Linked DNA regions of Homo sapiens: region 1 is linked to region 2. The links come from fine-mapping of genetic effects on gene expression. Tissue or cell type: whole blood. Region 2 holds a variant in brackets; the other region holds the start of a gene. All regions are shown on one strand. Distances are between the middles of the regions.

What was found. PIP is the estimated chance that this variant, and not a neighbour inherited with it, causes the effect.
Region 1: KIAA1614-AS1 starts here. The variant in region 2 is fine-mapped to the expression of KIAA1614-AS1 in whole blood (INTERVAL, PIP above 0.99).

Annotation. Positions count from the first base shown.
Region 1 is chr1:180,950,372-180,958,473 of GRCh38, forward strand. KIAA1614-AS1 (KIAA1614 antisense RNA 1) reads right to left here and starts at 4,516. Exons shown (of 2, transcript NR_145481.1): 1 at 4,297-4,516; 2 at 1-547. KIAA1614 reads left to right here. Exons shown (of 9, transcript NM_020950.2): 9 at 1-1,243. RefSeq lists a silencer at 3,571-4,110 and an enhancer at 4,146-4,751.
Region 2 is chr1:181,127,585-181,135,686 of GRCh38, forward strand. No RefSeq gene overlaps it. Among named protein-coding and RNA genes, the nearest start is that of LINC01732, 43 kb to the right of the region's middle. RefSeq lists enhancers at 1,268-1,367, 2,678-2,757, 3,008-3,117, 4,327-4,506, 4,537-4,586 and 3 more. The variant G/A (reference allele first, on the strand shown) is at 4,935.

The sequences.
Region 1 (8,102 bases), 180 kb before region 2:
ATGGCCAAGCTGTACTCAGGGCTGCTGGGGGTGGGCGATGAGATCCTCGAGGTGAACGGGGCCAAGGTGGCAGGGCTGGGCTTGGCTCACATTAAGGAGCTCCTGGCCCACTCAGAGAGCTTGTCAATCCGTGTCCTGAGGCAGAGACCTGTCCCACGGTGACCCAGAAGTGCCGCTGCCCTCACTGTCACGGCCTCGGAAGCCCTGAAGCACTCAGGGTGGTTGGCAGGAACGTGCTGCACAGAGCTGCTCTGTGGCGGAAACAGATCCTGGCAGCATCTAACCCCTTGGGCTGTGGCAGGGCTTCTGTGGTGGGCTGCCTTTGGGAGACGCAAGGAGCCTGTTTGCATATTTTGTTTAAGGCCATTTATCCAGAACTAGAAAAAGAAAAAAATGGGTCTCCTTCCATGTCTGAGGGGGTGTCAACATCTACTTGTACCTTTGTTGGCAGGGGGAGAAGGGAGATTCAGTGGATCCTTTGGTTGATGCCTGAGAGCCGGCCTCACCTCCTGGTCCCATGCCTGGTCAAAGGCTACAGCCTCCAACACTGTGGAACCAAAGAAAGCACATGTCCATATTGGCCTTGACCCTTCCCTATTTCAGCCACGTTCCTCCCTACTCCATTCACTGCCCTTGCCCTTTATCCAGAAATGGGCAAAGTGTCCCGGAATACCAGCCTTACAGCCATTGACCATATATGCCAAACCAAAATCAGAACGTGTGGTCTGGCAGGAGTTTTATGCCCCTTCGGGGTGTGGGAATTCTGGGAGATGTTATCTGGTAGCCAGAATATTAAAAATTTCTAGGAAAATTTTTTTATACATAAAGTTGAAAACAACAACAACAACAACAAAGACCAATTTCAGGACGTGCTACTGTGGTAGCCAGGATCCAGCTAGTGGGACCGGCCAGACCAGCCCCATGCCACCCCGGCCGCTGCCTCTGCCCAGGTGGAGGCAAGAGTTGCTGCAACCTGACCTGTGGCAGCCTCCATCTTAGTTCTGTCCAGCTTGGAGACAGGGCTGCGGCAGGTGCCTGGCCATCACAGCTGCATGCTTTCTGCCCAGACCTCCTGGCGGTGCTGTCGGTGGGCAGGTGGGTGGGTGGGCAGCAGGGAAGCTGCAGAGCGCGGCTGGGCCATCTGCCTGGGCCTCAGTGCTGCCTGGAGGGCTGGGACTCTTTGGGAGTGGATGGCCATGTGTCAGTCTTAACTTACTAAAAAGCAAAGCTAAAGCTTCTCTCACTCTGAGTTGCTAAATTCTCGGCTGGACACTCACTTGACCCTCACTAGCCATGGGCAGGACCAGGGAGTGGGGTGCTGGTGGTGGGCATGCCAGAGGAAAGGCTGGGGAGGCCACGGGTTAGGGTGACAGCCAGGGTAGATGCAGAAGCCTCCAGACCGTCCTTTGGCAAAAGAAAAGCCCTGGACAAGGTTTATGACCAGGAGAGAAGAAGCCAAGGGACTCTAGCTGGGCACAACTGAGGAGTGGAATAGGAAGTTCAGGGCTGTTTTAGAACTGGCCAGGGTGCCAGCTGTGGTTAAAAAAAAAAAAAAATCCTGGAACCAAGAAACCCAACCCTCAGCAGAATCGGGTTTAAAAGAGTGTCAGGGCAGCTTTCATTGGGCAAGAACACTGAAGCAGGCCTGTGGCCCAGGGACAAGGTCGTGGGGGTGGGGAGGCAGTCCTGTGCAGTGTTGGGAGTGTGTTCCCCCACCCAGGGCCTTTGCAGCAGGAGCCAGGTAGAACCCTGTCTTCATGATGCCCATGGGAGGAGAGGGAGGGGCTGAGCCCCATGGCTCACAGAATGGGGTAGGGGGGTGGAGGAGGAATTAGGGGGATCTGGCAGGTGAGCAGAGGGGCCAGAGGAACAAGTGCTTGGGGCTTCAGGCTGTGAAGAGGGCACTGGCACTCTTCAAAGTGTAGAAATGAGCCCACAGCAAGAAACTTCAAGTGTGGAGAAACCCTGGCTCCTCCTATACTGCAATTCTTGGCCTAAGGTCACAAAACTGGAGAAATTTCATGTTGAGAAAAGCTCCTGGGGGCCAAAGACAGCTCCACTTTTCTCTGAAAAGGACAACTTGCCTTCCCAGGTGGGAGGAGGTGGAAGGGGGTGGCTGGGGCTGGGAGGACGGGAAAAGGCCTCAGGCGTATCACCTCCCGGGCTGGTGACATACTTAGTCCTTAAATAGTCCTGCCAGGTATGTCCTGCTCATTGTCTTCATTTTGCATAGATGGGGAACCAAGTTCAGCAGCAGTGACAGGGCATGCAATCCTGCCCCTCTGACTTGGGGCCCACTTTTCCCACTGCAGCTGCCTCCCCATGCCAGAAAAGGCTTGGTGCTAGGGGAGGGGCACGAGGCACGCGGGACACTGGAGGCTCCCAGGCCTCTGGACGGTGACCTAATTCCAAGGAGGCAAAGGCGCTGGCATCCCAGCTTCTCCCTGGGGCAGCCTGATGTGCAGGCCCTGCCTTGTGTGGAAATGGGAGGGGGCTTTGGTTCCTCCAGCCTCCTGTTTGACCTTCCCCAACTGCCTGCATCTGCCTGCCTGGGGAGCTGCTGACCTCGAAGGCCTAGGGCAGCCCTGCCTCACACACTGGAACATCAGAACCTTTTTTTTTTTTTTTTTTTTTTTTTTTTTGAGACAGTGTCTCACTCTGTTGCCCAGGCTTGGAGTGCAATGGCACAGTATCAGCTCACTGTAACCTCCGCTTCCTGGGCTCAAGTGATTCTCCTTCCCCAGCCTCCCAAGTAGCTGGGACTACAGGCGCCTGCCACTATGTCTAGCTAATTTTTGTATTTTTGGTAGAGACAGGGTTTCACTATGTTGGCCAGGCTGGTCTCGAACTCCTGACCTCATGTGATCCGCCCGACTCAGCCTCCCAAAGTGCTGGCCTGAGCCATAGTGCCTGGGCCATCAGAACCTTCTTACTGAGAGCTTATTAACCAGGAACCAGGCCTAGGCCAGGCAAGAGCCCCCGGACTTAAGAAAGACCCGCAGCCTCAAGGGGCCCCAGCCCAGGGGGAGGCACACACACATTACAGCGCCGGATGCAGGGTATGCTGCAAGAGGAGCTGCAGCCGGTGTAGCCTGTGGGTAGCCTGTGGACAGCCTGGGGCCGTGATTCGTGGTTGGCCGGGTAGTTGGCAAGGGCGCCAACCGGGCAGGTGAGCACAAGCAGGGCTTTGTAAAACGAGTAGGAAGCTACAGCAAGGGCCAAGTGGCTCAGGCACAGAAACGAAGCAGCCACATGCAAAGGTGTGGGTATTCCCGGTGTCTAACTTATGTCCCTCCCGCGGTTCACAGAAGGCCCCTGACACTGGGACTACACGGAGCAGAAAGTGGCACCCCTTTGCCTCAGGCACCTCAGTCTCCTCGGGGCTTGGGGGCATTTTCAGAAGCCACCCGCAGAACCAGCGTCCCGGGCGGCGGCTGGTTTTCCCCTCTTTCCCGGGGGCCCCCCTCTGTCGCTGCGGGGTGCAGCGGCGGCGAGAGATATCCGCAGCTGGCACCCGGTGTCCCGGGAGGGAGAATCGGGGTCTGTCGCGGGCCCTGCGACCAGGAGGCGACTGTGCCCTCAGCAGCTGCCCCGCGCCCGCCCCGCCCTCAGGCCACTAGAGGCAACCTCGCAGCGACTCCGGTGCCCCCCCAAGTCTCCCTGGCAGGGCGGGCTGTCCCCACCGGCCAGGGCAGGCAGCGGGCGGCCGCTTGCTCTGCACCCGCAGACTCCGCGCCAGCCGCGCCTTCCCGGCCACGCGGCCGCCCGCGGAGTGTTCCCGCCGCGCAGACAGGAGGCGTGGGGCCAGGCAGCACAGCCAACAGCCTCTGTCCGCGTCCTCCCGCGGGGCCTCGCGCGGGCGGGGGTGAGAGGGGAGCGGCCCGTTGCGCTGCCTGGGGGTCGCCAGGGCCTTCGTGCCAAGGCCGCTTCCGCGAGGCGGGGTGTGTCCAGCAGGGCACCGGCTGTTAGAGCCGCGGGGGCCTGCAGCCTGAGGGTGGAGGGAGGGCGGGCTCGCGGGAGTTTTGCAAACCCCGCCCCCAGCACACGCGCGCACGCGTACACGCACACACACTGCTGGGCTCACCCTGCCTTTGAGAAACGCACGGCTGGGGAGGCGGACGGGGCCTACTGGTGCACCGCACGGTCCCGGGCCTTGCTGAAAGGTGATGTGGAGGCGGCGCGCCGAGCCAGACTGGGAGGATGAGCTGGAGCTGGCCGGAGGGATGGGGAGGAAGTGGGGCGACCTATGGACCCTCATGTCCGTGGGGCGGGGGCGGGGTGTGCAGGAATGAGTACCTGGTGCATGAGTGTCCCCAGCTTTCAGGCGTGCTGGAAAAACCGCAGGCCGGCTCGAATTTTGGAAACCAGTGTTAACCAGGACTTCAAGGACCTGCCTTCGTTGGGCTGTCCCTCGCCTTGCCCTGCCAGCTACGCAAATGTTCCAGAGCTCTGTTGAGGTCATTAAATCACCCTGAATCCATACGGCAACACTGCGAGAGAGAGACTATTATACCAGGCTAACGCACGAGGAGTCCGAGGCTCAAAGGTTAATTCACAGATAGATCCAAGGTCTGGGAGCCAATCAAAAGCGGAGGCAGGATTTGAACCTGGCCCTCTGTGACTTCCAGCCAGCATCCTTCCACCCTCCTGGGTCCCTCTGCAGCTCACCTCCCTTGGAGGCCCTCGAGCAGCTCTGGAGGCCCTGCTTGGCCTGCCCGCCACTGACCTTCACCAGGACGCAGGGGCTCTCATTTTGGTTTTTCTTCTGGGAAGTGGGGCTGGAGAAGAGCAGGCAGATCCCTTTCCAGGGCAGTGTTTCCAAACTGCAGGCACAATTCACTCATGGGTTATAAAAGCAATTTTGTGGGTTGAGACCAACATTAAATTAAAATAAAAATTAGAGTGCTTTATACAAGCCAAGGGTAGGTTAGGTTTTGAGAAATGCTTCTGCAAGTGTGTACCGAGTTGTAATTTAAAGTGGGTTATGGCTCTGTTCTGCGGGGAGGCAGAAGAAACCCTCAGGGCTATGGCCTGGCCCCTGGGGTAGTGGGGAAGAGGCCTCCATCCTAGATGCCCAGGTGTCCTGGGCAGCTGTTTGTTTCCACCTCTTTTCCGGGTGTGCCAAGAAGAGGCCTATGACCCAGGAGAGGAGGGCAATGATGCGACTGTGGACTTCTTAGTCTTCCAAACTGCCTCTGGGCACAGGATTCTTGTGTGGGTATTATTGGCAGGAGCTTTGTTTGTTGGCTCCTGGATCCCACTAGCCCCAACTTCACCCATCCATGCACCCACCTACTCTCTCATGCTTTATGCATGTGCCTTGGCTGGAATGCCTTTTCCCTGTCCCCCCACAAACCCCGTGGCAGCCTTCAAAAATATTAGAGGTGTCTGTCTCTGGAAGCATTCCCGATACTGCATGCTGACTTCGGCTCCTCCCCTTAAATCCCATAGGATCTTGTACCAAGGGCTCTTTATTGTGACTCTTTAGGTAGAATTGCTTGTTTATCCTCCACTAAACTTACCTGGCAACAAGTGGACTTCCCTAGTTCATCTACCCAACCCATTTCCCACCCCAAGTCCCCAGACTAGTTCTGGAGCGACTCAAAAGGCCCTGCTGCACCTGCATGAACAGGCCTTCCCCTTTCTCCCTCCCTCCCCCACATATCCGCAGAGAAGTTTCCCTCTTTCCTACAAAGCCAGAGCACCTGCTTAGAAATGGCAAGAGCCTTCCTTGGCAAGAAGCTCTGCCCAGCGCTCTCTGGCTGTGGGTTGGCCAGGTCGGAGTGCTGGACCCTGAGGAAAGGGGCTGCGGGGACTGGCGCTGATATGTGCCCATGGAGCCAGGGCTTAACAGCTGCCCTGCCAGTCCTGGAGGGTATCCGGAGCTCTCCTGTGGCTGCCAGGCTGCCTGCCGGGCCTGCCTTTGTCTTGTCCTTCTGCAGTCTGGGCTCAGGCCCCTACTCACAGTGTGGAGCTGCCCTTAGGGTTCTGGCCCAGTGCCAGGCACTGGGGAGGGGCCTGTCCTGCCCTTAGGATACCCTCATCCCCAGGATGGATACAGCTTTGGTTGTGAAAAAAGGCCAGCGTGCAGGGCTACAATGGAAGCCCCAAGGCAGGAGGCCCCACTCTACCTAAGGAGCAGAAAGGCTCCCAGGAGAGCCAGCTCTAGGACCCCATGCCCCCCAAGACCCCAAGCTCACCAGCCTCCATCCAGCTCTGGTGTTAACTCAGGAACAAGGGGTGCTGGCAGCCATGGGAGTGGCATTCAGAGGCCACAATTTTCATTCTCATCCTGAGCTCCCCAGACTAAGTCTCCAGGCTTTTCTGGGTTTATACAGTAAGGGGTTTGGCTCATTTACTTTTTGCTTATTTCCAGCCAAATACACAAAAGCTCCAAAACATTTATCAGCAAGGCGGACCTGTGTGAAACCCTGAGCCAGTAGATCTCTTGAACCCTACAGTGGACTTGAAATGCGGTCAAGTCCAAGGCAACTGATATCCATGCTTTATCCCAGGTACTTCTAGTTCAGTGCTTTAATCTGCCACTAACTGGCACCGCTTTTGTGACCCCTCTCCCCACTCCTCAGCCTTATGTTACCACTTCTCATGTTAGAGGGATGGCTTAGTGAGACATCTGCTTGCCACCACTGAAGTCAGGCCAGTGTGTTTTCTCTTCATGGAGGCCTTGTATGGTCCAGGCCAACCTGGGCTCCAATTCTGTCTCTACCACTTACTAGTTGTAGCCTTAGACAAATTTCTTTATTGCTGCATGCCCCAGTTTTCAGGTGTAAAATTGGTCTCAACAGTATTTCCCTCGTCGGGTTGAGAACTGAATGAAAATGTTTTGCTCCTCACGGCATCCCTACAGCCTTGGTCAAAGACCTACCCCACACATCAGATTTGCATCAAATATTGGCCAGAACTATTGGCTACTGTTTAGATAAAACTTTCAGGAAGTTTAGAGTTACTGACCTCATCGAAGGCCAGCCAATCTTACTGTGCCAGGAGAAAGCATCTGATGGTATGTGAGCAAGTGGGCTGGGAAGGGAGGTGGGGAGAAAACACCATCCAAAGAGGCTGGAATCGGAAGTGCGTGCCCACACTGGCTTCTGGAGCCCGTTGCCCCCTCTCTGAGGTGCATCTGTGGTGATGCTTGCTCAGGCTCAGCCTGCCCCTGCACAAACAGCTGCTGCTAACGCTCCGTGTAGCAGCACCTGGGCAGGTGGGCATACAGCTGGCATCTGGAGGTGCCAAGGATCATTTACTGATTTGAAATTTGTCCTCTAGGACAGTGACCTATTATGGTGGCATGGACAGGCCTTCCCTTCCTGTGAGTTTCATTTTTGCCTCAGGTCTTGCCTTTTAACATTTTGGGACCTTTGCAATGATGGCAAATGAGTTTTGCTGCACAGCAAAGCCGTGAGTAGAATCGAGTCACTGTCCACCTGTGGAACTGGACCCCTCAGCCTTGCAAACTGTGTCCCTCTGCCAAAGCGACACAGTCCATGTTTCTCCCTCGGGTAGGGGAGATGATCTACTTTTATTAGAGGATACATATAACCCTAACTCTCCAAGCACTCGTTTCTCTGGCGAGGCTGGTCAGTATGTTTATTTGCCATCACCTTTTCTCCGTAGCTATTACGTCTGGGAGAAATCAAGCTAAGGACTTAGCAAGCTCTGATATGGCACATTCCGTGCTAGGCATGAGGGTCACAGTAAGCAGCTCTGCCTCTCACCACCTGTGTGACCTTTGGAAAATGACTTTTCTGTGTCCCAATTTCCTTACCTGCAGATTTGAGGTAATAGATGAGGAAACTTCTCATTTTTAGAATTCTATGTGTTAGTACAGACAAAGTACTTAGAACAGTGCCTGGCACATAGAAATTAATATCAGTGAGGATGATGATGGCAAATGGAATGATCAAGATCTCTCTGCCCTTAAGGGCCTTACGTAGCCTCATCACCTCATCCCACATAGAATTTAGGGCAGGCTCTCTCAACTACCAATTTGCTTGGACAATAGTCTTGTTTGCCAGCACTTCAGTGAGCAGGGGAATGAAGGACTCAATTCCTTTCTGTTCTGGTCTGTCTGTTCTCCCAAG
Region 2 (8,102 bases):
TGGCTTTTTTTTTTTTTTTTTTTTTTTTGAGATGGAGTCTTGTTCTGTCGCCTAGGCTGGAGTGCAGTGGTGGAATCTTGGCTCACTGCAACCTCTGCCTCCCAGGATCAAGCAATTCTCCTTCCTTAGCCTCCTGCGTAGCTGGGATTACAGGCATGTGCCACCACACTCAGCTAATTTTTTTGTATTTTTAGTAGAGACGGGGTTTTACCATGTTGGCCAGGCTGGTCTCAAACTCCTGAACTTATGTGATTTGCCTGCCTTGGCCACCCAAAGTGCTGGGATTACAGGCATGAGCCACCGCGCCTGGCCTGCCTGTGGCTTTATTGAAGGCCTTAGTGGGGACATTGTTAGGTGCCTGCTTTTGCAACACCACCTTAGCAGGACTTACAGAATCTTAACTGGAAAAGAAACTTTAAACTGTATTAACTAGGCCGGGCACCGTGACTCATATCTGTAATCCCAGCATTTTGAGAGGCCAAGGTGGTGGTTGTGGTGGGGCTGGGGGGGTCATTTGAGCTCAGCCTGGGCAACACAGTAAGATCCTGTCTCACTATGGGCAGGGTGGTGCGTGCCTATAGACCTAATCACTTGTGGGGCTGAGGTGGGAGGATCGCTTGAACCCTGGAATAAACTGTGTTAACTGACTTTCCAGCTATGATGCCTGGGGAAGTCATTTAACCTCTCTTAGCCTCAGTTTTCTTGTCTGTACAATAGGGATCAAAATGTTTACCCTGCAGAACTCTTGAAGGATTAGGGATGTTATAGGAAATGACTTAGCATAATGCCTGGCCCAGCTAACCACTGAATGAATGGTAGCTGTTAACATTAACCAATGCGTCATTAAATCTTCTTTTTTGTGAGGGGACTGGGGGATTGTTGGCTCCCCTGTGGTCTGCTCACCCATTGCTGAGGCCCCCTCCTTGGCACAGCCTGTTCCATAGAAAGAGCAGACTGCCAGCCACTCCTCTCCTTCTTCCTGAGGAAGCCCAGTGTCCCCACGGGCCATCGGACCCTTGCCCCTGGCGCTTGAGGCTTGGACACATGGTGACACCCTCTGCTTTTCAGCTGGCAAGCGTGCTCCCTCTCCAGGCTGGCCCCAGGGCAGGCCGGGCAGGGGGAGCTGGCCTCGTACTGGGGATGCTGGTCCTCTGCCCTGCTCCTCTGCCAGCTGGGCGGCTGGGCCCGGCAGCAGCTTGGACTAGCTTGAAGGCCCAGCAGGGGCCTCTGTGGGCGGCAGCCTCCCTGAGCCCCTCTTTTAGCACCGGGCCATCTGGTGCCTCTGTCCCCTTTTGTGTGCCTGCGGGGAGAGGAGGGGAAGTGAAGGGGGAGGAGACAGGAGATCTCTCTGGCCAGCTTTCTTCTGAATTGAGGAGAAGGAGGAGTTTGAGACAGAGGGGAGCAGGGCCTGGGAAAGAGGTGGAGGGGACTCTAGGCTTGGGACTTAGGAGGAAAGGAGGAGGGAGACATGAGAGATGGGGGGGAGAAAGAAAGCCCAGAAGGAACGGACGCTCTAGGATCCTGGGTACGAGAGCTCAAAGGGAGAAGAGAGCAGAGAGAGCAAGCCAGAACCAGAATGCTGTGTGGAGAGGAAAGGGAGTGCTGCAGAAGAGGGAAGAAAAGCACTCAGGAAAGAACGATGTCCAGGAGTTGAAAGGGGTGCAAGACTCTCTCCAAGTACAATGTGTTAAGTTGGTGCCTTATTTCTGTTCTTGGAAAGAGGAAGTGAGAGTGTGTGGGTCGGATGCCCTTCCCTGGTCAGGCTGAGGGTCAAAGGGAGGGGCGGCTGAGACCTGCAGCGTGAATTTCCGCAGAGCAGCCTGGGGCCCAGCCTGGCCCTGCCCAGTGGCCATGCAGGTTGGTTCCCAGTCATGGCAGGCACCAACTGCGGACTCCCTAGGGGTGGGAAGAAAACGTCTCCTACTAATACCCCTTTGATGGGGTTCACCTGGGGAGTAAAAATGCATTACTGAGGGCATTAGAGGCATGACTTTAAAGAATGTCACGTTTGGGATTTTACAGGCTTTGAAGCACCTGTCCCCTGCCGGATGGCAGAACATCCCGTGTCTTCCATCAGGTCCCAATGGCGTGGCATGAATGATGCAGACACAGGAATAACAATAAAAGCATGTGGCTTTGTGCTTCTCTGGTGCCATGTTCATTTGGGCTCACGGTCTGCATTTGGTGTAGTCACAGAGGACACAGAGAATGGGCTATTTTCTCTGCTGAGGACAATACAGACTGGACTTGGGTTGAATGCCTGCCTTTCCCTGGCTCTGTTCCTGGAGCCCGCTCAGAGTTGAGCTCCTCTCCCTGCTGAGTTCTTCCAGGCAGTGGCCCCCTCCCTCTACACTCTGGCCCTGAGGTGTGGTTAGCCCAAAATCTGCCAAGTCATCTGCATAAGGCCTTATCAGGGTCTGTCTTCCAGTCCCATCTGGAAAGTACTGTCCTTGAAGTGGGAAATCTTTGCAAATGAACGCACGACTGAGGCACTGGGAGAGCACACTAGGCATGAGAAAGTTGAGTGTGACTGATTTAGTGCATGTAGGTCCATTTAACATCAACCAAGTGTCAAGATTTTTTTCTTCCACCATTAAGTTCACTTGAAGATCACAGGCTGGCAGCTCTAGGAAGCACTTTGCAGCTCCAGTGCTGGTGTGGGGGTGCTCCATCCTGCCTCAAAATGTCCCTGCAGTGGTTCAGCCCTGCTGGGCTCTGGAGGAGAATGTGCCTTAGACATGCTCCCCGAGGAGCCATGGGGAGCAGGGCAGGCCACGGGGGAAGCAATTGCTGCCAGCGGGGCACGCTCACCTTGAGGAAGGGCAGGCTGCGGCTCAGAAGATCCCTGAGCAAGGTCACCAGATGTGGCCAGCGGACAGCTGACAGCAAGCAGAGATCTTGGGAGATGTCTGTTCGTGTGCATCTGCAGACAGGCTCACAGCTGAGCCACCTGAAGAAGGGCTAGAGATGACTTGCAGCAACTGCTGTGTATCGAGCACTTACGACGTGCAGGGCTTTGCACGGCAGGTGGTCCCAATCAGTCCTTGCAGCACCCTTGAGAAGGATGAAGAAGCCGTGGCCCAGAGAGGCTAAGGGACTTGCCCACCATCACACAGCCAATAAGGGGCGAAACTGCTCTCCAAACTGTGGCCAGGGGTCAACAAAGGCTGGGCCTGAAGGAGTGCAGTGGAGGAGGGGCACAGCTGGTGGGGGTGTCAGGGAGGGTTGCATGGAGGAGGCCTTGAAGAATGAGCAGGACATTGACTCTTGGAAGGGTGATATTTCTTCCAAATGGAGAAAATAGCAGGCACCAAAGCACAGGGCCTATTTTGGGATCTGAGAAAAGGGCAGATTGTGGAGTGCTGTTTGGAAGAGTCAGGCCAGGGAGGCATGTTGTCCATTTGTGGAGTCTTTTTTTTTTTTCCATTCTCCATTTATTCATTTATTTATTTATTTATTTATTTATTTATTTATTTATTTATTTATTTGAGATGAGGTCTCACTATGTTGCCCAGGCTGGCCTTGAACTCCTGGGATGCGGTGATCCTCCCACCTCAGTCTTGCTAGTAGCAGGGATTACAGACCTGTGCCACATCACCTGGTTCATTGTATGAAGTCTTAATGCCACTCGGGGAGGCTGTATTTTCTTTATAGGGGTGGGGTCTGATGATGGTTTTGATGAGGGAAGTCCCATGGGTGGGCCTGTCCTGGCAGTGGCCTGAGGGGTTGGAATGCAGGGGAACAAAGAGCAGCAGGGCTGAGGCAGAAAAGCACTGTGGGGGCACAAAGATGGAGGGGTGGTGAGGAGGCCGCATCTACAGGGACACTGGGTGGGGACAGGGGATGAGTGGGTGAGAGTCGGGGCCTGAGAGGATTCAAAAGTGACTGAAATGATGATGGAGGGGTTATTTATAGAAATGGGGAAGTCACAGAGAGAAGGTGCCTTTGAGTCGGGGAGGGGACGGGAAGAAGAAGGAGGGAGTGGATTTTTATTTTGAACCTGGTGGTTGTCAGTGGTTTGCTGGACCTTCGGGGGGGCCAACAGTGAACAGCAGGGGCTCCCTGATAATCAACCCTAAAACCTTGTCTGGAACATGTTCAGCTTCTTCCTTGCCCACCCTCCTCCCACCCCGCCAGGTGCTGAGCTCACCCTTTGTGATTCTTGGCCTTACATTCTGCACCTCCCAGTGGCACTGGAACCTTGGATGCCCCGGGGAGCTGCAGGGCCCCAGTGACCAGCTGGTGCTGAGGGTCAGAGACTGCGACTGTGCAGGCCATGTCTGCAGGTGCTCCCCTGTGCAAGGCCTCCAGGGGTGGGGGTGTCCCTCAGACCTTCAGGGAAGTTGCTGATAAAGAATTTCCTTAGAGGGGGTAAGTCCCCCTCCCAGACCCAGCAAGGCCTTCTCTCTGTTTCCCCGGAAAAACCTCTTCCATCCTTCCGAAGCTCCAGGCCTTGTGGGTGTGACAGCGTGCCTGGATCCAGAGGCAGCAGGGGAAGGGGGAGACATTTTGGTTCAAGGGGCCATGGCAAAGGCACTGCCTGGCAGATGGAGGAGGGAGCTTCCTGCTGCTGGAGTGGCCGTCCTGGCTGTGAGTATCCTGTCCCCTCCACCCACCTGTTCACCTCCTTTTTTTTTTTTTTGAGATGGAGTCTCACTCTGTTGCCCAGGCTGGAGTGCAGTGGCGTAATCTCGACTCACTGCAAGCTCTGCCTCCTGGGTTCACACCATTCTCCTGCCTCAGCCTCCCGAGTAGCTGGGATTACAGGCGCCTGCCACCACGCCCAGGTAATTTTTGTATTTTTTTTTTGAGACAGAGTCTTGCTCTGTTGCCCAGGCTGGAGTGCAGTGGCTCGGCTCACTGCAAGCTGCGCCTCCCGGGTTCACGCCATTCTCCTGCCTCAGCCTCCCCGGCAGCTGGGACTACAGGCACAC[G/A]CTGCCACGCCCGGCTAATTTTTGTATTTTTAGTAGAGACGGGGTTTCACTGTGTTAGCCAGATGGTCTCGATCTCCTGACCTTGTGATCTGCCTGCCTTGGCCTCCCAAAGTGCTGGGATTACAGGTGTGAGCCACTGCGCCCAGCCTAATTTTTGTATTTTTAGTAGAGACGGGGTTTCACCATGTTGGGCCAGGCTGGTCTCAAACTCCTGACCTCAGGTGATCCACCCAACCTTGGCCTCCCAAAGTGCTGGGATTACAGGTGTGAGCCACCACACCCGGTCTTCCCTCCTCTTTTCAAACACTCTACTGGTACAGGGGAAAAACTTTTTGAACTCAAATTTTGGACTTGAATTAATTCCAATTCTAGGAAGAAGCAAATGGGAGTGTAAATAAGATTCATTCATTCATTTTCTCACCCAAGAAGTGTGTATATTGTGTCTACTCCATGTCGGATAAATGATAGCTAAGCTAAAATCCCCCCCACCCCAGAAGAGGTAAGAGTTGGGAGGTACAGACACGTAAACAGGCAAGAACAGTATAGGAGCAGCCCATGACCCAGATTTGGGGAGCTTGGGGGTGCCTCTGCAGAGAAAATATTGCCTCAGCTGAGACCTGAGGTAGGTAGGAAACTGACCCAGGCAGGGGGAAAGGGACAACAGTGATCTCTGCAATGAGAACAGCAGGAGCAAAGGCCTGGATGAGACAGCATCCCCACCTCACTAAGGCACTAGAAGATCATCAGCTTAAGGAAACCAGCGATTCTAAAGACGCCTGCCCAGTAGGTCTCAACCCTGGCTGCACATTAGAATTACCTGGAAGCTTGAAAAAAATGCAGCAGTCTAGTCCCCCATCCCTAGAGGTTCTGATTCCCTGGGTCTGGGGAAGGTCATGGACACTGGCATTTAAAAAGTTCCCAAGCTCCCCATATGAGGCTAACCTGCAGCCTGGGCTGAGGACGCTACCACTGGTTTGTTTACTGAGGTTTGCTAATTACAGGCTGGTCTTATTCAAGGGAGTGAGGGGTTGAAGCTGCTGAGTATAGTGGGAAGAAGGGAACAGCAGGTCTTTAAAATGAGTCTGCTTTGCATCCCTGAACTGACTGAGCCAGTGGCACTCTCTACAGAGAGCCAGCTTCTCCCCATTTCCCCTCCTCTCCATCTCTTTGTTCCCACTGCCACCACCTTGTGCTGGCCCCTTGCCTCTCCAGGGATCGCCCAACCAGGCCCCTGCTGCTCAGGCAGTCAGCATGACCTTGACCCAAGGCACAGACAGGTTCCTGCGGCTCCTGGCCTGGATGGGATACGCCCACCTCCCACAGGCTCCTGAGAGAGCACATGGCCGTAATCCTCCAGCCTCACACCTGCTACCCCTCGCTTCACAACTTCTTCTACCCTGAGAAACCCCACACTTGTCATTCCCTCCCCACCTTCATTTCCCTTCCTGGAATGTCCTCTCTGCCTTCTCTACCTGAATTCCCTGTGTTCCTTCAAGAGGCTCAGGCGACAGACCCTGTAGGTGAATTCAGTGCATTCTCTGCACACCCAGCCCGCACTGCCTGCCCACATGCCTGCGTGGGAATGGTTAAGACCAGATTTCTCCAGCAGCCTTCAGCCTTTGCTTCCCAGGCCTAGTGGCCCCCAGCACAGAGCAGGCGCTCAGGGAAGGTGAATTAATGAGTGCAGCTGAGGTAAGGGCAGCGGCCAGGGCCTGCCTGCAGATATTCATGCCATTTGGGCTGCTCTCCTGTTTTGAAATGAGGAAATTGTGGGCCGGGCGTGGTGGCTCACGCCTGTAATCTCAGCACTTTGGGAGGCCAAGGCGGGCAGATCACCTGAGGTCGGGAGTTCGAGAACAGCCTGACCAACATGGAGAAACCCCGTCTCCACTAAAAATACAAAATTAGCTGGCGTGGTGGCGCATGCCTGTAATCCCAGCTACTTGGGAGGCTGAGGCAGGAGAATTGCTTGAACCCAGGAGGCAGAGGTTGCAGTGAGCCGAGATCGTGCCATTGCACTCCAGCCTGGGTGACAAGAGTGAAACTCCGTCTCAAAAAAAAAAAAAAAAAAAAGAGGAAATTGTGGTTCCCCCAGAAGAAGAGAGACTTGTCAAAGGTCATTCTGTAAATGACAGAGTTGGCATTTATTAAGTCTCAGGTTTGAGATTGTTGCCTCCAGGGTTTTTCCGGCTTTGTGTTGACAATGCCAGATTTTCAAGGCGGGGTGGAGGAGCGTGGGAATTAGGGGAAGCTGCTATGTGACCCGCATCTTTCCTCTGTCTTCCACCCAAGTGTCCTTGTGCCCCCAGCTACTTTCTCCAATTTGCCTGATTTCATCCTGGGTGTTTTGTGTTTGGCTTTCACTACTGACTTCTCCTGTGGGCCCCCTGACAGTGACCGTGACTCTTAAACAGCCTTGTGGTTTCACAGTGCCATCCCTGCCAGGCGCTAGTTTCTTCAGAGCCTTGGTCCCCCAGCTTGGGAGCCTGGGGATGGGTGTGCCCCATGGGAGGGGCAGGCAAGGACAGAGAGCAGCGAGACTGTAGTGGGGTGTTTCTGCCTGTGTGTCCCTGGGTGTCTGCATCTGCGTGGCAGCAGCCCAGCATGAGGCTGAGGGTGAGGGAGGCATGCCCGGGCATGTCTGCTGGGGCAGGCTGGCCAGGTTCCTGAGAAGACCAAGGAGATCCTTGGGAGAGGTGACTGGATCTGAGGCATGGAGAGAACGCCCGAGTCGGGAGGGAGGCGAGCCGGAGCAGGGATGGGTATTGATGAGGAGGCTGTAATGGGGGTGGCTGGTAGTAGTGGTGGGTAGCATTTATTGACTACTTACCAGATGCCTGGCACTGGGCTTAGGTCTTTTACATATATTGGATCGTTTAGTCCTTAGAACAACACCATGAAGTGAGATTTATCTCCGCTTTTCAGATTTTACATTTTGCAGTTTACAGATAAGGAAACTGAGGCTCACGTCACCAGTCATCATTGGAGTCCCTGCCTGTCTGAGCCTCTGACTACTGTCCTCTCTGGAGAACTTGAGAGCCCTTGTGGGGACATCTGGAACTGCTGGGTGGGGTTCTAGGGGTGGGGGAGCTGCAGCGGTGTGGTTCAGAGCCAGGCAAATATGGATTTCTATTGTTTTTGTGTCTCAGACTGGCAGGGTCTAAGAAG